4 linked regions of the Homo sapiens genome follow. The protein of the gene in region 1 interacts with the protein of each later gene in a pairwise test. Each region holds a gene or a part of one and is shown on either strand. Other genes may lie near its edges. The genes, in order: CCDC17, MTUS2, N4BP3 and KIAA1328.

Region 1 (8,550 bases):
TCAAAGAGTTCCACATGAAGACAGAGCAGGTATGTTGTAAACCTTCTTCCTAGAGACCAGTTAGTAACCAGGAGAATAAGGAGTCAAGACAGTTCTTGCCCTGAGGGAGCAAGTTTAATGTGAGAGAAAGATCGGGTGGGGGGGGGGGGGATTACCTTAGTAGAAATGTAGTGGGGCCCCTAAATCTGCCTGGGAAATAAGGATCCCCAGTGTTATATACAAAAACCAAGTGTCAGTGATTAGCAGATTCCAAAAAATAGTATGCTCTTTCATCCTAACAGCTCTAACTCCTTATCAGAACCACAAGGCTGTGTTCCAGAGCTATGGTCTGAGCTCTTGGTCTTTAAGGAAGCAGGTTCACCTTCCTCTGCTTCCTGATCTGCACTGTAGTTTCCTGGTCCTCTGGCCAGAGCTAAGAAGCTAAATAGCTTGTGTCAGTTTATCCAGCAGTTGCTTGGATTCTTTCTCTGAATAAAACACTGCTAGATCTTAGGGTGAACAAGACAAATGGGGTTTCTATAAAAATCCTTGAACTTCTGGTGGCCTGTATTTACAGCACAATTGGCCAAGTCCTTAAAAGGGGCATGGCACAAGCTGATGTGAGACCTTGCCACTTAGAACTCTGTTAGAAATAAGGACTTATGGCTGGGCACAGTGGCTCACGCCTGTAATCCCAACACTTTGGGAGGCCGAGGCAGGCAGATGACGAGGTCAGGAGCTCAAGAGCATACTGGCCAATATGGTGAAGCCCCATCTCTACTAAAAATACAAAAATTAACTAGGCGTGGTGGTGTGCGCCTGTAATCCAAGCTACTTGGGAGGCTGAGGCAGGAGAATCGCTTGAACCCAGGAGGCGGAGGATGCAGTGAGCCAAGATTGTGCCATTGCACTCTAGCCTGGGTGACAGAGCGAGATTCCGTCTCAAAAAAATAAATAAATAAAAAGAAATAAGGACTTTCAAGCCCCATCCCAGACATTCTGAATCTGAATCTGCATTTTTGAAAGATGCGTAGATGACTCGTAAATTAAAATTTGAAAAGTACTGGTATAAGAGATCTCAGAGGGTCTCTTAGAAGCACCCCCCGCCCCACATTCTACCTAGAATTGAATTGAGGCCTGGCCTTTCCCAGGGCTTATGGGTCAGTACAGTCATTGATATTTTTTTCTTTTTTCTTTCTCTCCCATGCTAACCATAGCTGAGAAGAAATGGCTTTGGAAAGAATGGCTTCTTGCAGAGCCGCAGTTCCAGTCTGTTCTCCCCTTGGAGAAGCACTTGCAAAGCAGAGTTTGAGGACTCAGACACCGAAACCAGTAGCAGTGAAACATCAGATGACGATGCCTGGAAGTAGGCATATAAATGCTCACAGTTAAATCTGACCCAGTAAACTCTGTGTGTTTAGGGAGTATACAAAAGAAATCGTTCTTTTCCTTTTCTTATGTTGTTGAATACTTCATTCACAAGGGAAATAATCATATCCCAAAGAGAGAGCAATTGGCTTGTTTTGCTTTTGTTATTGTTCTTCCCTGTTATCTGCTTTATAGAGAGAAGTTTGTGTGGTGGGACAGATTTTTTAAACACACTCACACACACACACACATACACACCCAGTATATATGGGGCGATGCACAGGTAGGAGCTGGCAGTGCAGGGAAGAGGAGACACTGGTCTGCAGCAACAGCTTCTACTACCAGCCCTTGGGGCACTCACCCCTGTGATCAAGCAATCATTGTCAATGACAAAGTGACTATTGAAGTTATAATTGTATTAAATTAATGCTAATAATTTGGATATTTTATTTTATTTTTGGCTGCTCGGGTAACTTTAGCCCTTAACCAAGCATATGTGGGTTTTTTTGGTTGTTTTTTTTTGTTTTTTTTTTCTTTTTCCTTTTTGGGTACAGCTGTAAAATATTTGGATATAGGAAATGTTGTGTTATTCTTGCAGCCTTGATATTCAGGGTGGATTGTAAAATATAAATTTTTGTGAGATTTCAAAGATTAAGATTATTTTGATAACATTATTTACAGATTTAAAAGATGTGGTTATCACAAGTCTCGAGGGGGAAACTACTGCATAAAATAACTAACTTGGAATAAATATTTTGCATCAGTTTGGATTGTCTTGTGTAAGAAGTATATTTTCTTTAAAATTAGATGAGTGGATTCTTTTTTAGGGGAAATATTTTTAGAAGTTGGGGGGAAATGTGAATTCAGACACAACTGTTTCTCTATTTTAGCAGATACTTTTTTGATGCAGAAAAACCTGTGCAATAAATTACCAGTAATAAAGTCAGAAACCAAGTTTTTTTTTTTTCCTGAAACTGTTTTTTAGTGCCCATGTATTTACCAGTGTACGTATTTTAAGGGAAGTCTGTTCTGTTTTCCTACTAAATAAGAACTTGGAGTGGGGGTTGGGGGAGAGTTGGACGATGGTAGCTGAATGGCTAGTGAAGGAAGCAGGTTTTTTCATTCAACAAATACTTTTTTTTTTTTTTTGAGACGGAGTCTCACTGTGTCACCCAGGCTGGAGTGCAGTAGCGATCTCAGCTCACTGTAAGCTCCGCCTCCCGGGTTCCCACCATTCTCCTGCCTCAGCCTCCTGAGTAGCTGGGACTACAGGCGCCTGCCACCACGCCTGGCTCATTTTTTGTATTTTTAGTAGAGATGGGGTTTCACCGTGTTTGCCAGGATGGTCTCGATCTCCTGATCTTGTGATCCACCCACCTCGGCCTCCCAAAGTTCTGGGATTACAGGCGTGAGCCACCGCACCCGGCCCATTCAACAAATACTTTCTAAGCCCGTGTTGTATGTCCCAGGCATTATGCAAGGCTCTGAGGATGCAAGGAGTGCCCAGCCCAGTAGGGGAGAGAATAGACAGTGATGTAAGAAAAGGACAGGGGTTCAAGACCAGCCTGGGCAACACAGTGACCTGTCTCTATAAAAAACAAAAACATTAAAATGGTCAGGTCCAGCCAGGCGTGGCTCACGCCTGTAATCCCAGCACTTTGGGAGGCTGAAGCGGGTGAATCACCTGAGGTCAGGAGTTCGAGACCAGCCTGGCTAACATGGTGAAACCCCATCTCCACTGAAAATACAAAAAATTAGCCAGGCATGGTGGCGGGCGCCTGTAGTCCCAGCTACTCGGGAGGCTGAGGCAGGAGATTGGCGTGAACCCAGGAGGCAGAGCTTGCAGTGAGCTGAGATAGCGCCACTGCACTCCAGCCTGGGAGAAAGAGTGAGACTCTGTCTCAAAAAAAAAAAAAAAAAAAAACAACCAGGCATGGCAGCAAGCACCTGTAATCCTAACTATTTAGGAGGCTGAGGCAGGAGAATTGCTTGAGCCCAGGAGGCAGAGGTTGCAGTGAGCCCATACTGCACCATTGCACTCCAGCCTGGGCAACAGAGCAAGACTCTGTCTCAAAAACAGAAACAAAATAGACAGGTCCACGTGGTAGCACACACTTGTAGTCCCAGCTTCTTGGGAGGCTAAGGCAGGAGGATTGCTTGATTCCAAGGCAGTTCAGGGCTACAGTGAGCCATGATGGCACCACTACAATCCAGCCTGGATGACAGTCCTGCTCCCGCCTCTTCGGCCTAGAGCAGGAGATTAGAGAACTACAAGCTGTCTCTTGAGGGAAAAAAAAAAAAAATGGTAGTAGTATTTCTACTGAATGCCTATCACTGTTGCACCATTGTAAAGTCAACCAGTCAAAAGTCTTAACCATTGAAAATTGGGACAAACTTAGTTGTTGAAAAGGAGGTTTTGATTTGGGCTTTGCCATTTACTTGTTTTCTGAGAACATATTTCTAAAAATGTACTCTTTATGTCAGTTGGAATTAAGCTGAACTGAGATGACATACTTTGAACACTTTGTAACTTGCTGCTGGTGGGTCATACCTTGGCTTTAGGTACTGAGTAGGGAAATGTCTTAAGTCCCTGTCTTGTTTAGAAAAGGGAGTTTCGGCCAGGCATGGTGGCTCACACCTGTAATCCCAGCACTTTGGGAGGCCGAGGCGGGGGAATCACGAGGTCAGGAGATCGAGACCATCCTGGCTAACACTGTGAAACCCCGTCTCTACTAAAAATACAAAAAATTAGCCAGGCATAAGGCTGGGCGCAGTGGCTCACGCCTGTAATCTCAGCACTTTGGCACGCCGAGGCGGGCGGATCACAAGGTCAGGAGATCAAGACCATCCTGGCTGACACGGTGAAACCCCATCTCTACTAAAAATACAAAAAAAATTAGCCGGGCACAGTGGTGGGCACCTGTAGTCTCAGCTACTCGGGAGGCTGAGGCAGGAGAATGGCTTGAACCCGGAAGGCGGAGCTTGCAGTGAGCCCAGATAGTGCCACTGCACTTCGGCCTGGGCGAAAGAGCGAGACTCCGTCTAAAAAAAAAAAAAAAAAAAAGCCGGGTGTGGTGGCAGGTGCCTGTAGTCCCAGCTACTGGGGAGGCTGAGGCAGGAGAATGGTGTCAACCTGGGAGGCAGAGCTTGCAGTGAGCCGAGATCGTGCCATTGCACTGTAGCCTGGGCAACAGAGCGAGACTGTCTCAAAAAAAGAAGAGAAAAGGGTGTTTCTTGGCCGGGCGCAGTGCCTTACGCCTGTAATCCCAGCACTTTGGGAGGCCAAGGCGGGCAGATCACGAGGTCAGGAGATCAAGACCATCCTGGCTAACATGGTGAAACCCCGTCTCTACTAAAAAATACAAAAAATGAGCCAAGCGTGGTGGTGGGCACCTGTAGTCTCAGCTACTTGGGAGGCTGAGGCAGGAGAATGGCGTGAACCCAGGAGGCAGAGCTCATTGCAGTGAGCTGAGATCGCGCCACTGCACTTCGGCCTGGGCGACAGCGAGACTCCATCTCAAAAAGAAAAAAAAAAAAGTAAAGAGGGTTTCTTAAGAAATATGCGGTCACCTCAGAGCTCCTCCATATATTTTGGGAGTGGGAGTGGAGTGAAGAATTTCACCAACAGTTCAGGGTCTTTCTGGCTTCTGGCCAATCTTGGGAGAGAGAAGGGGTTTTTTTCTGGACTTGATTCCCTCATCTGATAGATTCATTCTGTTCGCCCACAGCTTTCATTTCTTGGGCTGTGCTGATTATCTTCGTCTACAGCTGAAAAATGAGGAATCAGGGAATGGGAGTTAGGGAGACTGCTATCCCTGGTGCGACATGGTTTCCAGGCAGAATGCTGGAAAGGTCAGAGTGCCTCCTTTGCCAGGTAGTTCTCTGGATTGGAGAATGGTACAAACTGTTACATCCACTTGGGAGTACAGCAATGAAAAAGATGACACTTGCCTTTTAGAGGCTATTAAATGACCAATGATGTAGTAAGTGATAAGGGCCCAGCCTAGTCTAGGAGGCAGCTGCTTTTTCCTCTTTATTAATAGTCAGGGAAACCAAGCTACAATTAGAGACTTGCCCACGTTCAGACTTTGTAACACTTTTTCAAGCCAGTGGCTCCTCCCAAACGGCCGAGGTTTCCCCACCCATTCTCCTGACCTGCCCAGCCCTGTGGTTGCTGTCCAGGGAGCTAAGGCTCTCCCCAAACAAACTTGAAGATCTCACAGACCTAATAGACACGGCCTTTCCTCTCTGCCTCTGGCTTTATGTCTCTTTCATCCTCCTCTGCCTTTCCCCTGCCCTTGATCCCTTCTGCAGGTCTTGGCTGGTTTCAGGAAACGGGTCCCATCCCATGGACTCCCACTCTGGGGAGCCTGCGCTCCTGCCCTGTGGGACCTGTGACATGGTTTTCCGCTCCTCAGCTCTGTTAGCCACCCATACTCAGCGCTTCTGCATTGGCCACCCGACCCAAGAGATGACATTTGGAGCACAGGCATCAGTTGCCACTGAACCCCAGCGGGCCGCGGTAAGGGCCTCCATGGCCATGGGTGGGGATTCAAAGGAGCCAGGACCTTTATGATTCCTCATCCTACTACACCCTATCCCCAGGTTGTGCCACAAGAACACCAGGGCGTGCCACAAGAACCCCAGGGCCTCCCAGACCAGCAGGCCAGTAGATCTGCTCTAAAGAGGTTAACAGAGGAGGTAGAGCTACCTACCTTCCCCCAGGGCTCAAAACGTTGAGCGTCTTCCCCAAACCTGTAGATCATACTTGGGACAGATTCTGCCCACGCAGAGATCGCGGATCGCTGTTACCTCCAGGTGCAGTGGCTGCGGCTATCCCTACAGGAAATGCGGCCCTGGATAACAGAGGTCCCCAGGGTGTTCGCGGGGCCCTGGACACGTTCCGAGGCGCGGCCTCAGAGTCCCATGTCCGAGGCGGTGGGAAGCCCCAGCGAGCGGCTGCGGGCGCTGTTCAGGACTCGCGCGAGGCGCGTGGCGGAGATGGAAGCGCAGAGCCGGGCCCTGCAGCTACGCGGCGAGGGTGAAGGAGATGGGGGACGGGGACCAAGGACCTCCTCTGCCCTCGCCGTTTGGCTTAAGCTTGCTCGGGCCGGTTCTGACTCGGCCCGCATTCCCTCAGAACTGAGCCGACGCCTCCAAGTTGTGGCCTGTACGCGGGGCGGGATGTCCCGCCTCTTCGGCCTGGAGCAGGAGATTCGAGAACTACAAGCTGAGGCCGGGAGGACGCGGGGAGCTCTAGAGGTGTTGGGGGCCCGCATTCAGGAGCTGCAGGCGGAGCCAGGGTGAGACCCGACTAAGCGGATCCCCGGAACATGCGGCTCCGGGGTGGGAGGGGCGGGCTGGCTGCAGCCCCGGGGCCTCTGATGCGTTACCGTCTCCCTGCGCGTCGCCTGCCACCCCAGGAACCCGCTGAGCTCCCGGCGAGAGGCAGAACTTTATTCTCCAGTGCAAAAGGCCAACCCGGGAACTCTGGCTGCCGAAATCCGGTGAGAGCCGGGGCCGGAGATGGGCATAGGGCGAAGCGCTGAGCAGTTCTGGAAAGACGGCCTTCCTGTTCCCCACTCCCTAGGGCGCTGCGGGAGGCCTACATTCGAGACGGGGGCCGGGACCCCGGCGTGCTGGGCCAGATATGGCAGTTGCAGGTGGAGGCGTCTGCACTGGAGCTGCAGCGGTCGCAGACCCGCAGAGGTGAACAGGAGGGCCTCTCGCCAGCGGTGGTCAGTCCTGGGAGGAGAAAAGAACTCGAGGGAGGGCCTGTGGCTGTGGATGGCATGTGAGCTGACAAGTCCAGCCTTATCCGAAGAGCCTTAGCGCTGGAGAGCTGCTCACAGCCGGACGCGGCCAGTCACCAGAGGTCAAAGGTGACAGGTCACACTTGTTCATCGCAGGAAGGGCAGGTGCCACCTCAGGGGAGCTTCCAGTAGTGGAGGCTGAAAACCGGCGCTTGGAGGCAGAAATCTTGGCCTTGCAAATGCAGAGGGGTCGGGCACCCTTGGGTCAGTGAGCACCCCAACCCTATCCCATCCCACTTATCTCTCCCCAGCAGGCCTGGCTCAGGCAGACAGTGCATGGGGAACAAGACCCGTGTTTGTGACTCCCCTAGTTCATGTCTGCACGTGTGTATCCCTGTATCCACAGGGCTCCGCCAACCCATTTGTGGGCCCAACTCTTGGGGGAGGGGTATCTCAGCTAATTACCTGCTTTGTCCAACTTAGGGGCACCCTAACTCTTCTGCTCCTAGGGCCCCAGGATCTGCGACTCCTGGGGGATGCCAGCCTACAACCGAAGGGGAGGAGAGATCCCCCACTCCTCCCGCCACCGGTGGCACCACCGCTGCCACCACTTCCAGGCTTCTCGGAGGTTCAGTTCTTGGGTGGGGCAAAGGCTGTGAGGACACGGGGTGGGTTGGGGGAACAGGTTGGAGGCAGCTCTGCTCTGAGCAGTTGGGGGAACATGAGCAGCTACAAGGCTTTCTGGAGGAGTCAGCTCTCTTCCCCACAGCCACAGCTTCCTGGAACAATGACCAGAAACCTGGGCCTGGACTCACACTTCCTCCTGCCCACATCGGACATGCTGGGCCCTGCACCCTATGATCCTGGGTGAGGCCCGTGCCACCTTCGACAGCCTCTGTGACTTGGCCAGCACTGCTGGTTAAGGGAGCCCACTAGGACCAGATAGGGTTAGGGACCTGCCTGAGAGGAGGGAGGTTGAAAGGAGTTGGGTATTTCTGTGCTAAGACTTGTGTTCCCCAGGGCTGGCCTGGTCATTTTCTATGATTTCCTGCGGGGCCTTGAGGCTTCCTGGATTTGGGTGCAACTAAGGACTGGCTTGGCACGCGATGGACGGGATACAGGAAGGACCACAGCGTTGCCCCCAGCCCTTTGCCTGCCCCCACCTCCTGCTCCCGGGCCCATGGGCAACTGTGCCATCCTTGCCAGCAGGCAGCCTGTGCCCAGGTCAGTAGGTGGGGATCATGACTCTGGTACTCTGCCACAGTTGAGGCTTATCCACCATTCTGCTAAGTTTTCTCATCTGTATACAGAGGCCGCTGGCTCTAAAGGGCTAAGTCCTAGAAAGGGACTGTAGCTCTGGCTTCCGACACTGCTTTTTGGTTATTCTACAGACTACCACCCTCATCATCAGTATCTTTGGTCTGTGAGCTGCAGGTCTGGCAGGGGCTAG
Region 2 (5,425 bases), on another chromosome or scaffold:
AGAGAGCCACCACTGGCTGATACCCCAACTTCCAGAAATTCACAATTTCCATCCAGGTCTCGCCTGTCCCTGTGGGGCCACGCTCTGAGGTGCCCCAGCTTTCAAGGAAGGGTGTTCAGGCTCCTCCCTCACACAGCACAATGCGGGGATAAAGCAGGGTTTTGGCTTCATCAGCTGCTCTCCCATGAGGGCTGAGCCATATCAGTAAGACCCAGGCCTGAACCCTTGCCCACTCAACTCAGCTAGGCTCCTCAATGCTCACCCATGGTGTGTTACCCTTGCACACATAACTCGTGCATATGCATACACTCACATGCACTCACACAGGCACTGCTCACTCACACACACACTTGCATATTCCCACTCAGGCACACTCTCATACACTTACGCACACACTCATATACTCATACAATCCCTCACACCTATTCACATGCCCTGTTTGCACACTCACACGTGCATGCTTTTCTTCACATGTACATGCTTATTCTCACATGTACATTCTCTCACATACATACGCTCTTGCACACATGCATGAATGGACACACAGCCATTGCCCCCATAACTAAGCCCCTAGTGCAGGCATTTTGTTCTCACCTCAGAGGCACATAGGAAAGGCTGTGCTGGGGGCAGCAAGCTCTCTTTGCTCCGGAAGCTGCAAAGGTGCCCTTGTCAGCAGAGCAAGTGCAGACTTTATCCAACAGAGGTGATTTTTCTGGACTTCAGTCTGTCCAGCTTTAAAATGCATATGTACTTATTCCTGTCAGTTCCTCAGAGGTGCTGTCATTCTTCAAAAATGCAACAAAGCAAGCAATTCGGATTCATTTTTTCACCCACCAGCCTTTATCGGCAAACATTAACTGAGCATCTGTTACGTGCCTAGCACCAGCTGGATGCTGGGAGTTCAGCATGCAGAGCCTTGGCCTCTGTCCTCCGGAGCTCCCAGTCTAGCAGGCAGACACAGACCCCTAGAGCAGCATTTCCAGCAGGGGAGGACACCTGCCATCGTGGAGGCACAAGCCTGGGGCAGGGAGGCCAGGAGAAGGCACCCCCAGCTTCCTGGCAGTCTCAGGAAGGCCCGCGGCTCTTCACTGCTATTGTGCTGTTGTCATTGTCAATTGCCAGCTGCGCGGCTGTCTCTCCTTTCGGAGCTTCCGGGCAGCATACCCACTCCAGCTCTCCGCTTCCCTCCTTTCAGTCGCTGGCCTTTGCTCTGTCCAGTGGACAGCCAGTGCCTCCCCTGACCGGGCAGAGGGCCTGTGGGATGATGGGTATTGGCCAGAGAGGCTCTGGGAACAGATGTGTCATTGGGCCAAATGGAAATCATGATTCAACCAAAGTTCTTGGTCACTGGGTCACCCTGGTCCCTGTTCTCCCTGCGGTCATCATGGCCTCCTCCCTTTGCCCTGCACCATTGTCCTGACCTCAGGTTCAGTGTCCACTAGCATGATTGCTACTTATTTGTCATTGTGCCCATGCAGACAGCTGTCGGAGGAAAATGCTAACCTCCAGGAATATGTTGAGAAGGAAACCCAGGAGAAGAAGAGATTGAGCCGAACCAATGAAGAGCTGCTTTGGAAGCTCCAAACTGGGGACCCGACCAGTCCGATTAAACTCTCGCCCACATCTCCCGTTTACCGCGGCTCCTCCTCGGGGCCCTCCTCTCCGGCCAGAGTCAGCACAACACCCAGATGACGCCACTACACGGCCTGCGGGAGCTCCGGCTTCTCGTCCTCCGGTCTCCACCCTGAGGGAGCACCGACCCGGTGCCGCCGGAGCTGGCCCTGTGCGCATGCTCAGTAGCTGCGAATGCATCCTAGGCGCGTCCTCCTCTGATCCCCGTGTAAGACTGCCCTGGTGTCGGCACTTAGGAATGTGTAAATGGTAAAGTCTGATGTGCAAACGTTTTACCATAGTTAGAGCCAAAAGAAAGACACTTGCAATTGTTCTTGAGCAATGAACTTTCACTGCAGAATTTCAGGTTAGTTACAAAAAGCTCAGTTTTCAATATACATTGAATAATCATTGTGTACTGCACCGATATGTGTGTATATTTAGATATACGTATATACACATGCTGCGGTTCTGAATTTCATTTTTTATAACATGAAGTGCTGACATATTTTAGTGAAGGTCAGCAGTTTTCTAACTTGTGCCTAAGAATTATTGGGAAATGAAAATGCATTTCTATCTAGCTTCCCAGGAATATTTCTACCCAAAATAGAAAAAGGAAAAAAAAAAAGATACAGAGAAGAAGCGCCTTTCAACTCACCACCAAGTGGTACTCTCTTTAACACGAACACCAGCTATTTGTGAACGGTAACTGCCTTTGGAACAATCAGCTTCTCAGTCAACATGATGTGAGATCACTATTATTCCATTCGCAAGTTTTAATTATTGATACTCCTGTCATGAGCGGATAAGGGAGAGCAGTGGGAAACCCTAAGGGGGTTTAGCAGTTTTGCAGATGTTACCCATGACAGTGACTCATCTCTGATAGTCTTGTAAACACAAGTTTTGCTTTTTTCCTAAATGGCATCTCAGACTCGGTCATTAAGCTATTGTTGCACCCTCCGGAAAACATGGCAGAGCATGACCTTTGAGTAAGAGTGAGGATGACCTTGCAGATGACTGTGCCCATTCGCGCTCCATCCTCATGAAGGAAATTGCTGCCAAGGTCTGTATTTTGACCAGGCACAGAGGGGGAACATCACTCCAGCTTTCCATGTGGTTCACTCTGATGCGATGCTGTAAATGATCAACTCTTTGAAATAGGACCCTCAGGCCCCCATTTCCTAGCAGCCCCCCTTCAGTTTGGTTCTACAACTCAACCCCTTCACTGCACATTGAGATGGCTCAGGGGTTCTAGCAGGGGCTTCCAGAAAAAAAAAACACCATTTCTGTCCCGGGGGACCAGTTCTGAGCTGTGCTAGATCATCACACGACCACCCAGAAACCCACTTGCACTTCCTGCTGGATGATCAGGCAACGCTGCTGCTGACCGTGCTCCCATCTTAGACCCAGAAGGTTCTCCCAAACAGAGGAGCCCAGTGAAACAGCCAGCCAGGGGGCACCAGCTCCTGGACTGGCATCTGTCTCTAAAATGGTAGAATTAGGATATGAACAGTACTCATGTAGTGGTGTGGAAGATTAGGAGCATGATACACAAAAGGAAGAAGTAGTTTTAACAGATATGGTGATGATGATGATGCCCTTGTTTCCTGTATGTGACAAAGACCCTGCACTTTCTCCCTGAGACCCCCCCAAAATTGTCCTGAGCACAGGCCTGTCTTTGAGCGTGCCCAAGGCGAGAAGAACCATGAGGGGGTCCTGCAGGGGCCGGAGCCATGGAACGGGGAAGAAAACAGCCCGCGGACGGGGTCGGCTTGTCCAGGGCACGCCTGCTCGGCACACGTGTTGCCAACGTGAAGGCAGACATGGTCCCTGGCCCTAGGATGAGTCCACGCTGGGCTTCCGGGCCTCAGGTGCATCTCCAGCCAACCTCCAAGGGTCTTGCTCCTTCTGGGGACGTACACAGTAAATCCACATGGAAACACCACCATTTCTCTTTGCTTTAGTGGCTCTGCATGATACTGTGATATTGAGTTGGGCATTCCATTAGAGTAGATCTTGCCACATTGACTAAATACACAAGTATTTATTCTAGTAGCAGGCACAACCTGCAAACACAAATTCAGTTACAGCTTAGCTGTCCGAATTAGGAACCGCTTACATAGCCGCACCTGCTAAATGCAGTTACACAGCAATACTGACTTCCGTGTGATGCTAGAACGTGGTACAGTGTATTAGGCTGCTGTGGTCAGAGTTGTAGCATCGTTAGCACTAAGTAATTCCTCATTAGGTGGACTTCGGTGAGAGCTTTGCCCTAACCTGCCCTGACCTTGGGTACTTGAGCTAATTTCCACGTGGCCCTGGCTTCGTGGTTTGTTTGTTTTTTTTCTTTTGTTACGGACACCCATCATGTATGGCTCCTCATCTGAGCCATCACCGCTCCCGAAACACATGGGGCGGCAGCTGCTGTGCCTCCTTCTCAATTCTTCCACCCCCCCACACCATCAGAATTCGGATTTCTCTCCACGTGGCGTCTGCCTCTGTCCCCTTCCAGGCTGGAGCGACGTTTCCACGTTCGGATGCTGCAGCCTCTGCACCTGCCTCAGACAGACCCACCAGATACCACCTGTCTCTTCGTGGCATTTGGGAGATGCGTGGGCGGCCTGCCCCCCGACCGCCGCCCCTGCCCACCACATGCTGGGACAAGGTTCTGGCTGGATGTCAGAATGGATGGGGGTGGGGGCAGCCCTGGCCGTGATTAGTTGAATGAATGGGGTCACAACATCCCTTTTCCTGCCCCTACAGTTTGTGTTGCATATTTGTGTTTAAAGCCTATTAAAATAAACTTGAGGGACTTTCTGCGATATCTACTTGATGTAACTGGAGACCTGTCCCTCTCAGGCTGGGGATCCCAGGCAGGGAGGCAAGGGGGGTGGCGTTTGCAGGCTGGACCCCTTTTCTGTGTGTGCCGGGGTTGGGTGATGGTCCGTGAGAGAAGTCTTGTAGAGACCCCCTCTCCCCTGACTCCGCAGGTCCCAGGTCCCTGCGCCCACCCCTCCAGCCTGGGGGCTTGAGCAGCCCCTCCCCTGGACTTGGGAGCTCAGTGCCTCTGCTCTGCAAGGCCGGGTGCGCTGGAGTTGGCTGGAAGGAGGACATAAAAGGTCATTCACTCATTTCAACCTGAAAGTGCTTGCTCCCCCCATCCCGATGGCCTTCAGTTTGGGCTGCAGCCGGTTTAGCCAGCTGGACCTCGAAGTGTCCCACAGGTGTCTGGCACCATCACAAGGGAGACAGCTGGGTTCGCAGGTTCCCTGTGGTGGTTTTGCAGGGTCTGTGGGAGTGGCAGCTATTTCAGCGAGATCAGCAAGTCCCTCCTGAACAAGTAGTGAACAACAGACCCTTTGGAGACACAAATTCACTTCCGGACCTCACAGGGAACACCCCAGGGCCACCTCTGGGTCATCCCAGTATATCGATGGCAATCTAGTTATTAATAATCTATCTATCTGGCCACGTGTCCTAACCTGTTTGTTTCTTTTGGGGTGTCTTGAGCACCCTTCACTTTCATAATGACCCCCTCCCATTGTCCTTACCCCACCTTATGCGGTAAACAAGGCAGCTGGCAGCACCTCCACATAACAAAGGAGCAAATGGGTGGCAGCCACCAACACGAGCAGGAGGTGAGATTAGAGCCAGCTTTCCACTGTCCATGGAGAATGGTGTCCCCTTCCACGGCTCATTTGCAGTAGGCAGAGGAGACTCTGGAAGTCAACTCACTCACTGACCTCCTCTGTGCCAAGGAGCCCTGAGAGCTGGCTCTCCCTTCGTGGGAGACTTGCATCCCCCTAGCAAGAAG
Region 3 (8,316 bases), on another chromosome or scaffold:
TAATCTTGGGGACTGGAGAGGGGTGAGGGGACTGGTGGCGGGGAGCAGGAGTGAAGAGGCCTTACTGGGGCTAGCCAGGACCTGTGGAGAATGTGGCTTGAATGTCCCAGCCCAAATCTAGCCAGCTGTGTGGCTGGGGGTTTGCCGCTCCCAGCTCAGGGAAGCCCAGGCACTTGGCTTGTCCCCTACCCTTCTCTCCACGACCCGTGCAGGGTCCCCGGCTTTTTGCTCTGATGTTCCAGTGAGGCTGCAAGGCACTTGCTGTCCTCCCTCCCTCCTCCCCCACCAAATCCCCTCCGCCTGCACAGCTGCCCTGCCCAGCTGCCCTGCCCGGAGCAGGCAATCCCTGGGCTTCCAAGCAACAGGAAGGAAGGAATGTATGTGTTGGGGGAGGGGGTGGAGGTAGGATGGACCCCTTTAGGAAAAGAGACTGTCCCCACTCTGTGACATACGCAGGGAGGAGTGTCCTGAAAGCTGGGGGCCCCCGCCCTGCTGGGGGAGCTGATAATCCAGTCAGTCAGCCAGGAGGGGCACAGTGGGGACGGTGGGGGGCCTAAGGAGAGACAAAGGGAAGGGGCTGTCTGCTGCTCCTTCACTAGCCTGGGGGCTGGGAAGGACACTAGGTCATCATGCCACTGGGCTGCTCCTGCTTTGTCAGTGTGTCCTGTGGGTGACCTTGTGCACAGCTGTATGATTGTGTTTGCTGCTGGACGTGACCGTCTGCACCGTGTCCTCTAACATGGGCTCTCTGTGCTGCTGGGTGGGGCTGACATGTGGCACACCGTGGCGTGTGTGGTTGTATGCGCTGTTGCGGCCGGTGGCTACCTCTAGCTCAGGGACTTTCCCTGGACCTGCGATGCCTCGTGGGGAACCTGGGGGTCGGTTATCTCCTCGAGACAGGAAGTGAGCATCTGCCCACCGGAAGCTGAGGCGGTGTGCATTTGGGGTGAGGTGGGCGTATTTGGCACTGCTGCCAACGTCCCCGCCCCCAGGGCCACACAGGGCTTACATTTCATAAGCCCTTTCCCCTCCATCTCTGACTGTCAGTAATCCTTTGAGGAAAGCCGGGCAGGCGGGGTCTTTCCCACTTCATTTTTTTTTCCTTTTTAAAAATAAATAGAGATGGGGTCTCGCTATGTTGCTAAGGGTGGTTTCAAACTCCTGGGGTCAAGTGATCCTCCTGCCTCAGCCTCCCAAAGTGCTGGGATTACAGGTGTGAGCCACCATGCCTGGCCCTTTCCCGCTTCAGAGATGCAGAAACTGAGGCATGGCAAAAGGCGGAGCATTTGTGTCTGGGGTCCCCTGGAGAGAGTGAGGGCAGGCTGGAGAGCAGGTCTCTGCTGTCCCCTCCCCAAGAAGCAGCAACAGGAGTTGAGCGTGCTTGTGGACAAACCACATCTCTGGCTGGATGGGCTTGTCGTGGCAAGGAGGTATCAGATGAGGAGGCAGGATGCTTCCATTCTAATACTTTTGGCTGTAGGGACCAATCCTAGGTCCCACTAGACATTGGGCAGCCATGACCAGCTACGACCTTGGGCAAGTCACTTCACCTTTCTGAGCCCCACTGACCTTTAAGAAGGGTCAATAGCTGGGCACAGTGTCACGCACCTGTGTTTTTAGCTACTCAGGAGGCTGAAGTGGGAAGATGGCTTGATCCTAGGAGTTCGAGGCTGCAGTGGGCCATGGTTGCACTACTGTAGTCCAGCCTGGGTGACAGAGTGAAGAGCAAGACCCTGTCTCAAAAAAAAAAAAAAAAAAAAAGAAGGGACAATAACTCTGTCACAGGACTCAGCAGGACCCGTATGCAGGGCCAAGTCGCTGTAGGAACCCATCCCCTGTGATTCCTTACCTGGATGCATCTCCTATGTAGCCTGCAACGTGCGTTCTCAGGGGCTGGGCTGGGTGGGGTGTGCAAACCCGGATTCGCCCCATCCTGGGTTTGGGGGTTGGTTGGGGGAGAGCTGAGGTCATTTTTGCACAGGGTGAGGTGAGGCTGTGGGGTTGGGGCAGGTCCCCCTCCCGGAGAGCTTTGTCTTCCACAAACACAAAACCTGGAAATGGTTGAGGAAGATGGAACCTCCTAACGACCATTGTTCGGGGGCAGGAGTGGGTGCCCGGAAGCATGGGTGGTAGTAGGGGACCCACAGCTGCAGCTGGCCTGCTGGGCTTCTGTTCGAGAATGGGAGCAGCTGCTCAGGGGTGGGAGGCAGAGAAGGTGGCATTTGTTCACTCGGCCAGACCTTTCTGCACGCCCGCTCCATGCTGGGCACTGGGCTGTGCAGAGGATCCCCAGGGGACTAGGTACCAGCCCTGCCTCCAGAGTGTGTGGCCCAGCACAGGTGGAAGGTGGTCCGTCAGCCTAGTCCCTTGGTGATGTTTGTGTGCCTGGCTGAGCTCGGCTCCAGCCAGCCTGTTGACCCTGGCTGTGGCCCAGGCCCTGAACTGGGTGCTCTGTCATGTTATCCCACCCCATCCTCCCAGCATCCCAGTGATAAGTGTTATTGTCGCCAGGGTGTGTGTGCGGAAGTCCAGGCTCACTGAGGTTAGTGGCTTGGCCGGGGTCACACACCGATTGGTTCCGCCAGGGTTAGGATTTGGGACCCACCCTGCCGGGTGGTGGGCTTTGGAATAAGAGCATATACAGGGGCTGGAGTGAGTCCAGCTGCCCCTTCCCTCCTCCACCCACCACTGCCCAGACGGGAACACCTGTCCCGGAAACTGTGGCCATTGTTCACGTCATCCTTCCTCCTTTTGGGCCCTTCCTGTTTGTATCCCTCCCACTGTAGCCCCCAACCCTCCCCCCCATGCCAGATGTTTCCCTTGGGGAGCTTTGCCCTTTGCAGGAAGAGGGCCTGCAGGGGTTACCCCTCTCCCATGGGAAGGAGGGTCTCACTGGCCTTGGGTCTCTGTGCCTTCTCCCCACCCCACAGATTTGGTGGGGAACATGGCAGGAGGGTAAGCAAGGTCAGGTTCAGCCAGGCTGAGTTTTCTTTTTTTTTTTTTTTTGAGATGGAGTCTCCCTCTGTCGCCCATGCTGGAGTGCAGTGGTGCGATCTCGGCTCACTGCAAGCTCTGCCTCCCAGGTTCATGCCATTCTCCAGCCTCAGCCTCCCGAGTAGCTGGGACTACAGGCGCCCACCACCATGCCCGGCTAGTTTTTGTATTTTTAGTAGAGATGGGGTTTCACAGTGTTAGCCAGGATGGTCTGCGTTTCCTGACCTTGTGATCTGCCTGCCTTAGCCTCCCAAAGTGCTGGGATTACAGGCGTGAGCCACCGCGCCCGGCCAAGTTTGTCTTCCTTAGCCCTGTGCGGGCCCAGTGCTGGGAGGACGGCTCCTGTCCTGCTGCTTCCAGGCCTATCCCCTCCCGGTACTTCTGAATCCCACACAGGCCCCGAGGTGGAGCTGGCCCTTCGGTGCTCGGCTGGGGCACCATTGCTCTTCCTTAGACTCAGTCCAGCAAGTGACAGATGGGCAGGTGGCTTTGGGGCTTGTACTTCTTTCTCTTGCCAGTCTAGGGATCCTGTCCCGGGGTTCTCTCTTGGACCCACATCTGCCTTACCTGGGCCTGGGCAAGGTTGTGGGGAGCTACAGGGAGCAAGTACCTTGTTTTCAGGCCCCAGGGAAGTTGGGCAGCCAGTGCTCACCTGCCCCTAATGGAGCCTCCCAATTCCCAGAAGCAGCTGCCTGTACCCTGTTGAAACTTCATGGCCACAGCCCCAGGCCCTGCTGGCATTGCCATGGGCAGCGTGGGCAGCCTGTTGGAACGGCAGGACTTCTCCCCTGAAGAGCTGCGGGCGGCACTTGCCGGGTCTCGGGGCTCCCGCCAGCCTGATGGGCTCCTCCGGAAGGGCTTGGGCCAGCGTGAGTTCCTCAGCTACCTGCACCTCCCCAAGAAGGACAGCAAGAGCACCAAGAACACCAAGCGGGCCCCTCGGAACGAGCCTGCCGACTATGCCACCCTCTACTACCGGGAACATTCTCGCGCGGGTGACTTCAGCAAGACCTCGCTGCCAGAACGGGGTCGCTTTGACAAGGTGCACCTTTGCCCATGCCCCTTACAAGGTGTGGGGAGGGTGGGGTCTCCTTGGAGACCCTGATGTTGGGATGGGGTGGGGACGGGGCATGCTGAGATACGAAAATCGTGCTATGGGCTGGCCTGAGGTTTGTTCACTGCCTCCTGGTGGCACGTGCCCCGCGGTCTCAAAGAGGATCCCTCAGGGGCTGTGAGAGCATCAGGAGGTAGAGCAGGCAGCTGCCCAGGTCTCACACCTGCCCTCTCTGCCCTCTCTTCCTGGCAGTGCCGCATTCGCCCCTCAGTGTTCAAGCCTACGGCGGGCAACGGGAAAGGCTTCCTATCCATGCAAAGTCTGGCGTCCCACAAAGGCCAGAAGCTGTGGCGCAGCAATGGCAGCCTGCACACGCTGGCCTGCCACCCGCCCCTGAGCCCCGGGCCCCGGGCCAGCCAGGCCCGGGCACAGCTGCTGCACGCCCTCAGCCTAGATGAGGGCGGCCCTGAGCCCGAGCCCAGCCTGTCCGACTCCTCCAGTGGGGGTAGTTTTGGTCGCAGTCCTGGTACTGGCCCTAGCCCCTTCAGCTCCTCCCTTGGCCACCTTAACCACCTCGGGGGCTCCCTGGACCGGGCCTCTCAAGGACCCAAGGAGGCTGGGCCACCAGCTGTGCTGAGCTGCCTGCCCGAGCCACCACCCCCCTACGAGTTCTCCTGCTCCTCTGCCGAGGAAATGGGAGCCGTGCTGCCCGAGACCTGTGAGGAGCTCAAGAGGGGCCTTGGCGATGAGGACGGCTCCAACCCCTTCACGCAGGTGAGGGAGCCCCTGCCCTGGAGTCCTGTTCTGTGCCTCAGCACTGGGGTACAGGCCAGAGAGAGGGGCCCCAGCCAGTTCACCCACGTGGCCGTGGACACAAGAGAGCAAGAAAGGGGGAGCTGGCTTGGCTTCCTTCCTCTGCATCCCAGGTGGTGGGGATGTCATGTCACTGGGGGTCCTTGCCTGGGAGTTGTGTGGGAAGGAGAGAGGCTCCCTGGGAGGGCCATGTGATGGGGACACCTCACCCTGGAGGGCATCCCGGGTTAAAGCGCATGTGTGGCTGGGTCCTGTGGTGTAGGGGCACAGGATATGATCAGTGGCTGGAGTATCAGGTGGAGCTCTGAGTCGCCTCTAGGGGGCAGGGCCACGGTGGATGCATCTCTTCCCCTTGACAGGTGCTGGAGGAGCGCCAGCGGCTGTGGCTGGCTGAGCTGAAGCGCCTGTATGTGGAGCGGCTGCACGAGGTGACCCAGAAGGCTGAGCGCAGCGAGCGCAACCTCCAGCTGCAGCTGTTTATGGCTCAGCAGGAGCAGCGGCGCCTGCGCAAGGAGCTGCGGGCTCAGCAGGGCCTGGCTCCGGAGCCTCGGGCCCCCGGCACCCTCCCAGAGGCTGACCCCAGTGCACGACCAGAGGAGGAAGCCCGATGGGAGGTGAGAGATGACACAGGGCTCCGAGACTCTCCCATCTCCATTGCCGGTCCCTTCTTCTGCCTGCCCCCTCCCAAACCGGCTCCCCACACCCTACTTTGCTTGCGTCCTCCCCATCCCCCAGGTGTGCCAGAAGACAGCAGAGATTAGCCTCTTGAAGCAGCAGCTGCGTGAAGCCCAGGCGGAACTGGCCCAGAAGCTGGCGGAGATCTTCAGTCTGAAGACACAACTTCGGGGCAGCCGGGCACAAGCCCAGGCTCAGGACGCAGAGCTGGTCCGGCTGCGCGAGGCTGTGCGCAGCCTGCAGGAGCAGGCCCCTCGGGAGGAAGCCCCAGGCAGCTGTGAGACTGATGACTGCAAGAGCAGGGGCCTGCTAGGGGAGGCAGGAGGCAGCGAGGCCAGAGACAGTGCTGAGCAGCTGCGGGCTGAGCTGCTGCAGGAGCGACTTCGGGGCCAGGAGCAGGCGCTGCGCTTTGAGCAGGAGCGGCGGACTTGGCAGGAGGAGAAGGAGCGCGTGCTGCGCTACCAGCGGGAGATCCAGGGAGGGTACATGGACATGTACCGCCGCAACCAGGCACTGGAGCAGGAACTGCGGGCACTGCGGGAGCCCCCCACACCCTGGAGTCCCCGGCTCGAGTCCTCCAAGATCTGAGGCCAGCAGAGCGAGCTGACAGCAGCAACACTGTCAGAAGGTGCCCTGAGACGGCCGGCTCAGCCTTCCCTTGCACTGGTTGGGGTGGAACCTGCAGAGGCCAGCCCGGGGCTGGGGAGGCGCAAGGAGAGGAGGGATCCAGTGGGGCCGTGGGCTGGGTAGGGTGCCTTGGCAGGAGCCAGGACAAGGCCCTCCTGGCAGAGGAGCACCTAGGCAGGGCCCAGCCCTGCTTCCTGGAGTGGATGTGGCCCAGAGAAGGAGGCTGGGGGATCACCAGCCCCAAGGTCCCGAAGGGCAGGTCAGAGGGAGAGAGGCTGGAGACCTGGGCTGGGGCCTTCCTCCAGGGAAGGAGGCTGGGGTGGGAACACTGGCCTCCCCCAGAATAAAACCATGTTTTCTACCAGAGGCTCAGAATACGCTGAGCCTGTGACCAGAGGATGATGGATGGTCGGGATTGAGGCTGTTGACCTGGGCAGTAGCTCCTCCCATGGCCAGTGGTCAGTGGGAGGGTGTGCCCTGCGCCTGTCTGCATGGCCACTGGGCATGTGTGTTGGGAGCAGAGGAGTCCTACTCCTTGCCTCAGCCCCACACGGTTCCTTAGCTGCCGTGTGGGCTGAAATTCCTTTCTTTAGCACCAGTGGAGTTTTCAGAAGGAACAACACCAGGGAATGCCAAAAAAACAAAGGGCAAGTCAACCAAGGCATTTTGAGAACATGAAATGTCTTCTTGGTGGGAAGGCTGGGCCCCAGGAGTATCCACAGGCTCAGGCCATGCCCCTCCCCGCACCCACCTCCTGTCTCCCTCCCTCCCTCCATAGGAGTGGGGGGCCCCTAGAAGTGCTCTGCCTCATTCCCTGTTCGTAGGAAGGTGCAGGAGAGGAGGTGGGCAAGCTTATGGGTTTCTTGGTAAAGAGCCTTTACCACAGCAAGGAATGGGAACATTTCCCCATCAGCAACGGGGCTCTAGGGCATTATTAAGTAGGGGTGAAATATGATTGATTTGCATTCTGGAAAGCTCTCCCAGGAGGAAGCATTCCCCACCCCACCTTGCCTCTGTCCTGCGCTGGGCTCCAGGACGGTCAGTCCTCCCGGATCCCTGCTCTCAGCTAAGGCTGGTCCCTAAAACCCACACCTGCCTTTGGTCTCTCAGAGGCCTGGCTTGCCCTCTGGGCCTTTGCTCCCCCGCTGGGTGCCCGGCCTGGAACACAGGTTCTGTCTGGCTGTGTGAGTGGCGTCTCTCCCTTCCTTTGAGGGAAGCTCAGCTTTCTTACGCGCTCATCGTTGGACGGGCTGCCATGCATTGCGTGCTTACTGGGCGCCAGGTGCTGTGCTGGGCCCTTGTGAGTGTGGGGGCACAGGCTGAATTAGATGAGCTCCTGCCGCAGGGGGCCCTGCACACTGATGTCAGCTCACCAGTCTCTTCCCTGACAGGGCAGCTCAGGGAACTTCTGAGAAGTTATCTGCAGAGAGCCCCACCTCACTCCCTTTGGCTACCCTGGCCGTGCCTGGCAGCCCCTCAGGCCCCACAGGTGGGTCCTGGTTGTGAAGTGGAGTTAGTGCACATGGATGTCAGGGGACGGGTGTGAGGCATGAGCTGGGGGGGCCCCCTTTTTCAGGGCAGAGAATGAGGCGTGTGCACTGTCTGCTGTGGGGATGGTGTGTTTATGGCCATGTAAGTGGCAGGTGTGTGTAAAGATGTGCTTGTGGGTGGTGGGTGTGTCTGAGGGGGTGTGTTTGGGAGCCTGGCCTCCAAAAGCCAGTGTCTGGGTTGGAGACAGTGCAGGCCCCTTCTTGGCCCCACCCTCTACCCCATTCCTTCCTGTCAGCCCCAGTCTGTCTTGGCACTGGCCAGGCTTGGGTGGAGCCTGTGTCCCAGACAGATCCCCTAGGCCTATCTGAGACCCATACAGGCCCACACCTGAGCTCCTGTCTGCCTGAGGAGGGAAAGGGGGAGTGGCCAGGTCAGGCAGGCCAGTCGTCTACACACCCCCTTGGTACCCATTCCCATTTCACAAACTCCTCCAAACCCCAAACCCCAAACGGAAATCTCTGGGACAATGGCTCCTCCAGAGGGCCCCTCAGAGCCAGGTGCTGGCCAGATGCCTTGATCACAGCCTCCATGGCCAGGGGCCTGTCAAGCCAGGGGCCCACACACCTGGTGCCAGGGTCCACCTTGGTATACCAGCTCGGCAG
Region 4 (8,316 bases), on another chromosome or scaffold:
AGTAAGTACCTATAATCTGGTATTCTTTTCACACTATTGAAAAAAGATTTTCAATACTTCACCTAAACATTTAGAGAAATGTGATGGAGAGATTTCTTAGTCCTTGATGTTTCCATCATGAGAGGACAGATCATCTGTGACTCAATGGCACCTTTTTTTTTTATTGTTGTTGTTGTGAGTTATACATCTCCTGCACAGTATGATTCAGCAGTGCTGTTTTGCACAAGGAACGTTTTAGTACCTCATCTGTAAACAATGAGTGTGTGGTGTTGTCATGTTATGGGTTAAATCTTCCAGCAAAATATGCTCCTTCAGTTTAAGTTGCCTTTGTCCTTCATTACAGTTCCTAGTAATGTCAGAATGAGTTAGTGTTTCAGCAGTACCTAAATTTGACTGCTTAAATGCACTCAAGTGTATTACCATTAGCAATATCATGGACTTGATATTAAAAAATATGAACTGCAAGTGACCTGGTCAAAACATTGCAGTATAATCTCTGCTGTTGAGTTTTCAAATGGAAACAAAGACTGTATGTTGTGGTAAAAATAATATATTAGCCCAGAAAGTCTCTGTGGTTGATAATAATTACATATACATGTATTGCTGGCAAAACTCAGCAGATTAGAGTAGAATGGGCAGTACTGAACTTATTTCCTTCAAATCCTGGAGGTCTGGGATAGAGGTGCATCTTCCTCTCTACCACTTCTGCCTGGGTTTCTAATTACAGTTAGCCCTCTGTATCTGCTGATTCATTCAAATGTGGATGGAAAATATTTGAGAAAAAAAAGAAATAGCACACAAAAAAATACAAATTAAACTGTACAATTTAACTACTATTTATATAGCATGTACATTGTTTTAGGTATTATAAATAATCTAGAAATGACCCACTAGTAGGCCCACTATACATTTGGTATATAATGTGTCTGTTTGACTTCCCCATAAAATATACATTTGTTGGGAAATTCTAGATTTGAAGGAGGTAAATATTTGGGTTCTTAATATAATGAGATGAAAATACATTACAAATTATTAGAAAGGATAGAGGCAATTTCAAATATTGTTATTAAAAATATTGAAGTAGTTTGTTTAGAGTTTTATATATTTGAAAATAAATTTGTCATGGATGTAGCTGAAAGTAAAAGGTTTTGTTGGCCGCTTGCGGTGGCTCACACCTGTAATCCCAGCATTTTGGGAGGCCAAAGCAGGTGGATCACAAGGTCAGGAGTTCAAAACCAGTCTGGCCAACATGATGAAACGGCCGTCTCTACTAAAACTACAAAAAAAATTAGCCAGGTGTGGCGGCGGGCACCTGTAATCCCAGCTACTCGGGAGGCTGAGGCAGAGAATTGCTTGACCTAGGAGGTGGAGGTTGCAGTGAGCTGAGATCAAACCGCTGCACTCCAGCCTGGGTGGCAGAGCGAGACTCTGTCTCAAAAAAAAAAAAAAAAAAAAGTTTTGTTTGCATATTTAGAATCACAGAAATATAACATATAAGGTTGTTGGACAACACCTCATAAAATTAAATCAATACCAATTTTATTCTTTCATAGATGGAGCCAGACATTCTTTTATGTTTGAGGGTACAACACTGAACAAAATAAAACAAAAATCATTACCCTCTTGGTGCCTACATTTTAGTGAGATGAGATCAGGTCATGAATAAGGAAAATATATGTTCAATGATTTTTTTTTTTTTTTTTGAGTCAGAGTCTCGGTCTGTTGCCCAGGCTGGAGTGCAGTGGTGCCATCTCAGCTCACTGCAAGCTCCGCCTTCTGGGTTCACACCATTCTCCTGCCTCAACCTCTGGAGTAGCTGGGACTACAGGCACCCGCCACCATGCCCGGCTAATTTTTTTTTTTTACATTTTTAGTAGAGACAGGGTTTCACCGTGTTAGCCAGGATGATCTCGATTTTCTGACCTCGTGATATGCCCACCTCGGCCTCCCAAAGTGCTGGGATTACAGACGTGAGCCACTGCACCTGGCCTATGTTCAATGATATTGGTGCTGTGGAGAAAAAATAAAGCAGGAAAGAGGCAGATAGTAGCGGGAGGTAGGTAGGTTGTGGGAAGAGAGAGTTTTGCAATTTCAAGTACCTATATGGTTAGGAAGTGAAAGCTTCAATCAGAAGGTGACATGACATGACATATGACATAAGTCCTAAAGTGAGCCATGAAGATATTTGAGGAAAGAGCTTCCTGGGTAGAAGAAATCATACCTGCAGAAGCTATAAGGTAGGAGCTTGCATAGCTTGTTAACAATTATAAGAAAGCCAGGAATGAGTGAGAGGAATAGTAGCAAGTGAGATCAGAGATGTAACAAGTTACAGGGATCAGATCTTGAGCATTGCAGGCTGTTGTTAATACTTTGGCTTTTAATCTAAATTAGAAATGACATAACTATTAAAATGATCATTCTAACCACTGTGTGAAAAAATAGGCTGTTAAGGGAACATGCACAGAAGTGACAGAGAGCAGTTAGGAGCTTATTGCAATAATCCTGGGAGAGGAAAAGTTGAGTTGGATCAAGGTGACAGTTGAAAACAGTGTGTTATAATCATAGCCTTTCTAAATTTCTCCTTTTGAAATTCAAAATAGTTCTTTTTGTCTTAAATTTCTTCTACTTTTTAAATAGTAGGGCTTCTTGGGATATTTTATGAATACACTGTAGAAGAATAAATAATGTCTTTGTGTTTGCATGATTGACTTGCCCTCAGTGTTTGTTCTTCAAAGCTAAAGTCTATCTTGAAATTATTTACTCTTCAGAATTGTCAGTTCCTCAGTAATGACCAAACTGGAGCACTTAAGTTTTTGTTTACAAAAGGAAAGGAACCTAATAGTAGAGTATATATTGCAGGGTAACCCACTTGAGAGTGGATAAAAGTTTCATGGAACAAGACCTTCCAAGATTTTTATAAGATGTGTAGTTGTGAATATATAAAGGTGAACTTTTAGAGAATATTAATTTTGCTACATTTAATTCAATTACTTTGCTTTCTAACTTTGTTTTTAATTCAATTACTTTGCTTTCTAACTTTGTTTTTAAAAGTTAGTTACAAATTCCCAGGTCAAAAGAAATTATGAATTATAAGAGGTATACAGAACAGAAGCAGCATTTGGATGCCGGATAATATTATTGTATTTTCCTTCATGTTCTCCTGCGTAGTTTCTGATGAAGAACAATCAGTAGTATACGTTCCAGGTATGATTTTCTATGTTAAAATTTGGGAAGCTTACTTTGGTCCTTAAATGTTAGAAGAAAATAAAGCTATTAGAACAATGTTGCGGGTATAAATAACTGAATGCAGAGCAGTACATCAAAACCTAAAATTTGTTTTTTTTGAATATTTGTCATAACCCTATTAAGGTTTGAAATACTGGCTTATCTTTGGGATTGGCTGGCCCAATCAGCTTTTAATGAACTTGTAGAACACTTCATGTGGCAAGGGGCAAAAGATTCTTTTCTTATTTTTTCTTTTACAAATGATAGCCAAATTTAATATTTCAAATAAAAGTGTGACTACTGCTTGATACAGGGTATATGTAAGAGGCACTTCAAGTTTAATGGTTGTAACTAGATGGTAGTAAAGCAACTATTGAAGGCACCCTCATTATATAGGGTGAAAAATATCATTGATTTCCCCTAAGTTAACATATATTTGGCATATCGTAATTTATTGGTTTTAATGTGACTTATGAATATTTACAGTACCCTTTACAAATATTTCAGTTAAGCTGGATGTGGTTGCTTGATCCTGTAGTTCCAGCTACTCCAGAGGCTGAGGTGGGAGGATTGCTTGAGCCCAGGAGTTCAAGTCCAGCCTGGATAGACATAGGAAGACCCTGTCTCTTTAAAAAAATAAATATAAAAACAAATTTCAATTCAATCTTTAGTGTATTTCTTTAAAACATATTCTTTTTATGATTCATATATTAAGAGCTTTAAAATTAAGTTTATAAAGTAAGAGAGTTTCCTCCATCAGGTCCCTTAAAGTAGAGGATTCCAAGGAAGGAGTTGATGGGGGAGGGTTTAAGATAATAAGGTATAATTTTGAAATCTTGTTTAATGGAAATCCTTAGGAATTTCTGCTGAAGGAAATGTCAGATCAAGACACAAGCTGATGAGTCCAAAAGCTGATGTTAAACTTAAGACTTCCAGGGTGACTGATGCTTCAATCTCCATGGAGTCCTTAAAAGGCACAGGAGATTCAGTAGATGAACAGGTTAGTATTTTTTTCGTCTTTTTTTTTCCTTGCTCTCCAGTCTTTATGAGTGCTGACCAAAAAGGGTAGAAGAACCTTTGAAAGTATACTAGGTGATCAACAAACATTCTTAAAAGATACAGAGGATTCCAGGATCCTTTGATGATGCCAGGTTTGAGCCTAAATTATCTGGATTACTCAAGGGTTTTGCTCCAAAACATCTGACTTGCTGTAAGCATTAGCCATGATAATGTATTATCTTGATATGTCTCAAAAGAACTACATTCTGATCTGTGTGGCATTGGTAAATCAAACTGATGAGAATTGCTTTTTAATTAGGCATCCTTTTTGATTTTTATTCTTGTGAATTTATTTGATAGATGAACCCTCGTAAAGATGAGGGACAAATCAATGACTAGGCATAGTAATAGTATCGGTGCATTCCTTTGGCACATGTCCTATCTGACCAGTTTATTTTACTTTAATTTTTGTTATATTTTCCCTCTGCAACCAGAGTTGTTCAATACCACTTCACACTCACTAGGATGTCTACACAAAACTTGTATATGAATGTTCTGGAATCTATAACCTGTGGACCAAATCCTTCTGCCTGTTTTATAAATAAAGGTTTTTTGGAATACAGCTGTGCTCATTGTTTTACATAATTGTCTATGGTTGCTTTTGTGTTACAATAGCAGGGTTGCTACAGAGACTGCATGCCCACAAGCTAAAAACATTTACTATCAGACCTTTTATAGAAAACTTTTTTCAGTCTGTGAATTATGTTCTCAAAGATATTTCCAGTGCCTCATTTATTACTACAGGATTTTACTGTGATTGAATCAAAAGGCCTACTTTACGTTACTTGTACCAGTGTACCCACTTCACACTGGGGTGTGAATAGTTGAATTTGCAAGTTCTTATCAAAAAAAGTTAAAAAATGTTTTTTCACATAATGGTTGATTTGTTTTACATTGAACAATAGCCTTCTTTTAGATTAAGTTCATATTTTTGTCCTATTGGCTATAACTTTTGATTGGATTATTTCAGTGGCTTCTTTAGAGATTATAGTATACATCTTTCATTTATCATAGCCTATTATCAAGTGATATTTTCCCACATTACCTATAGTTTAAGGACCTTTCAACACTGTACTTTATTTCTCACCTCCTGACTTTTTTGATATTGTTGTCATACATTTTACTTATGTGCACAGACCCCAAAATACATATTACATTTGCTTTAGTCAACTCTCTTTTTTTTCAAATTGAGATATAATTTGCATATAAAATTCACCTTTTTAAAGTGTACAGTTTATTATTTTGATTTTGTATGTGTTTATATTCACAGAGTTGTGGATCCATCACCACAATCTAGTTTCGAAACATTTTTATCACTCTAGAAAGAAACCCCATACCAATTAGGCACTTCTCATTCCCCAGTCATCTCAGCCCCTAGCAAACACTAATCTGCTTTCAGTCTCTATAGATTTGCTTGTTATTGATGTTGCATATAAAAGGAAATCACATAATATGTGGCCTTTTGTGACTGGCTTCTTTGATTTAGCATAATGATTTCAAGGTTCATCTATTCTGTATCATTACTTCATTCCTTTTTATGTCTGAATATACATTTTGTTTATCCATTTATCAGTCAATGGACATGTTCAACTTTCTAGCTATTATGAATAATTCTTCCATGATCATTCATATACAAGTTTTTGTGTAGACATATATTTTCAGTTCTCTTGTGTATATACCTATAAGTGAATTGCTGTGTCGTGTAGTTTTATGTTTAACCTTTTGACAAAATTCCAAACTGTTTTTTAAAGTGGTTACACCATGTTACATTCGACTAGCAATGTATGAGGATTCAGATTTCTCCACATTCTTGCCAACATTTATGTCCATCTTTTTTGAGGATGGCCACCCTAGTGGGTGTGAAGTGGTAATTCAATGTGATTTTGATTTGCATTTCCTTAATGACTAAATGATGATGAGCATGTTTTTATGTGCTTCTTGGCTATTTGTGTATCTTCGTCAGACAAATATCTAGTCATATCCTTTTTTAACTGAGTTATTTGTCTTAGTACTGTTAAGTTATGAGTTCTTTCTAAATTCCATTTACAAGTCCCTTATCAGATACATTATTTGCTAATATTTTTTCTCATTCTATGCATTGCCTTTTCACTTTTTTATTGGTGTTCTTTGAAGCACAGAAGTTTAAAATTTTGATGAAGTTCAGTTTATCTAGTGTTTTCTTCTGTCTCCTTTGCTTTGGTGTCATATCTGAGAAATTGTTGCCTAATCCAAGGTCACAAATATTTGTGCCTATTTTTTTTCTAAGAATTTTAAAGGTTTTACTCCTACATTTAGTTCTCATTCCATTTTGAGTTAATTTTTGTATATGGGGTGAGGTGGTAGTTTAACTTTATTCCTTTGCATGTAGATATCCAGTTGTCCCAGCACCATTTGTTAAAAAAACTGTCCTTTCCCCTTTGAATTTCTTGGCACCCTTGTCAAATATCTGTTGACCATAAGTGTAAGGGTTTATTTTTGGACTCTCTGTATTCTGTTCCATTGATTTATATTTTTATTTTTGGAATTAGGAAGTATAAGTCCTCCAACTTCTTCTTTTTCAAGATTGTTTTGGCTATTTTGGGTCCCAGTGTTTCCATAGGCATTATAGAATCAGCAAATGTTTTATACTTTTTGATGTTATTAGAAACACAGTTGTTTCTGAATTTCACTGTTGGATTGTTTATTGCTAGTATATAGAAATTCAGTTGATTTGTGAATTGATCTTGTATCCTGCAACTTTATCAAACTATTTCTAATCTAATAGTTCTTTTGTGAATTCCTTACCATTTTCTCTATATAAGATGAAGTTGTCTGTGAATAGAGATAGTTCACATATTCTTATTGGATGCCTTTATTCCATTTTGGATGCATTTTATTTTAATTGCCTTTTAAAGAAATTTTACAAATGCAACAGAAGTCTTTTAAATCTACTCATGTAGTTACCATTTCTGGTGTTTTCATTCTTTCACGTGTATCCAGATTTCCTAAAAGACTTCCTTTAACATTAGTTCAGGTATGCTAGGAAAGAATTTTTTCAGCTCACGTATGTCTGAAAAGTCTTTATTTCTCTTTCCTTTTCAAAAGATATTTTTGCTGGTTATAAAATTCTGAGTTGATAGTTTTATTCATTCAGTGCTTTAAAGATGTTGCTGCACTGTTGCCTGGCTTGTATTGTTTTTAAGAAGTTGGCTGTCATTTTTATTCCTCCTTATTTTTCTGTGTGTATGTGTTTAAATATGGCTGCTTTTAAGATTTTCTTCTTATCACTGGTTTTGAGCAATTTGGTTATAGTATACCCTGGAGTAATTTTTTTTTTTGAGGTGCAGAGTTGCTGTGTCGCCCAGGCTAGAGTGCAGTGGCACGATCTTGGTTTACTGCAACCTCCGCTTCCCAGGTTCAAGTGATTCTCCTACCTCAGCCTCCTGAGTAGCTGGGATTACGGGCGTGCACCGCCACACCCGGCTAATTTTTGTATTTTTAGTAGAGATGGGGTTTCACCATGTTGGTCAGGCTGGTCTCGAACTCCTGACCTCATTATCTGCCCGCCTCGGCCTCCCAAAGTGCTGGGATTACAGGTGTGAGCCACCATGCCCATCCTACCTTGGAGTAATTTTTAAAGTATCTCTTTTGTTTGAGGTTTGTTGAGCTTTTTGGGACTGTGGGTTTATAGTTTTCATCAAATTGGGAAATGTTTCAGCCATTGTTTCTCCAGATATTTTTGTTTCCCTCTCTTTCTAGTGACCTTAGTTGCACAAATACTAGGCCTCTTGAAGTTACCCTCTCAGCTCTCTGATCCTCTGTTCATATTTTTTTCATTAAAAAATTTTTTTGTTTATCCTTGGATAGTTTGTATTGCTGTTGCTATGTCTTCAAATTCATTAACCTTCTGCAATGTCTAATCTGCCACTAATCTCATCCAGTGTGTTTTTCATATGAAACAATGTAGTTTTATCTTTAGAAGTTCAGTTTCAGTCTCTTATTTTTGTTTACATCTTCCATGTCGCTACTTGACATGCTTTCTTCTAGGTTCTT

Evidence for each region.
Region 2: the proteins of CCDC17 (region 1) and MTUS2 interact in binary tests that used the Homo sapiens proteins (3 or more experiments, as listed by UniProt).
Region 3: the proteins of CCDC17 (region 1) and N4BP3 interact in binary tests that used the Homo sapiens proteins (3 or more experiments, as listed by UniProt).
Region 4: the proteins of CCDC17 (region 1) and KIAA1328 interact in binary tests that used the Homo sapiens proteins (3 or more experiments, as listed by UniProt).

The regions. Positions count from the first base shown.
Region 1 is NC_000001.11:45,621,055-45,629,604, reverse strand, and holds the start of CCDC17 (coiled-coil domain-containing protein 17), read left to right. Parts: upstream 1-5,550; 5' UTR 5,551-5,695; coding exon 5,696-5,869; intron 5,870-5,952; coding exon 5,953-6,048; intron 6,049-6,165; coding exon 6,166-6,388; coding exon of another isoform or gene 6,389-6,487; coding exon 6,488-6,650; intron 6,651-6,770; coding exon 6,771-6,854; intron 6,855-6,937; coding exon 6,938-7,056; intron 7,057-7,256; coding exon 7,257-7,364; intron 7,365-7,609; coding exon 7,610-7,728; intron 7,729-7,869; coding exon 7,870-7,967; intron 7,968-8,120; coding exon 8,121-8,324; intron 8,325-8,491; coding exon 8,492-8,550. Other genes in the region: GPBP1L1 (vasculin-like protein 1), read left to right, coding at 1-29, 1,197-1,349.
Region 2 is NC_000013.11:29,501,515-29,506,939, forward strand, and holds the end of MTUS2 (microtubule-associated tumor suppressor candidate 2), read left to right. Parts: intron 1-1,478; coding exon 1,479-1,692; 3' UTR 1,693-4,433; downstream 4,434-5,425. UniProt on the Homo sapiens protein: Binds microtubules. Together with MAPRE1 may target the microtubule depolymerase KIF2C to the plus-end of microtubules. May regulate the dynamics of microtubules at their growing distal tip.
Region 3 is NC_000005.10:178,115,878-178,124,193, forward strand, and holds part of N4BP3 (NEDD4-binding protein 3), read left to right. Parts: exon of another isoform or gene 1-3,676; 5' UTR 3,677-3,706; coding exon 3,707-4,036; intron 4,037-4,300; coding exon 4,301-4,822; intron 4,823-5,220; coding exon 5,221-5,475; intron 5,476-5,596; coding exon 5,597-6,124; 3' UTR 6,125-8,316.
Region 4 is NC_000018.10:36,831,152-36,839,467, forward strand, and holds part of KIAA1328 (protein hinderin), read left to right. Parts: exon of another isoform or gene 1-1; intron 2-15; exon of another isoform or gene 16-2,237; intron 2,238-3,051; exon of another isoform or gene 3,052-3,122; coding exon of another isoform or gene 3,123-3,168; coding exon 3,169-3,204; intron 3,205-4,082; coding exon 4,083-4,225; intron 4,226-8,316. UniProt on the Homo sapiens protein: Competes with SMC1 for binding to SMC3. May affect the availability of SMC3 to engage in the formation of multimeric protein complexes.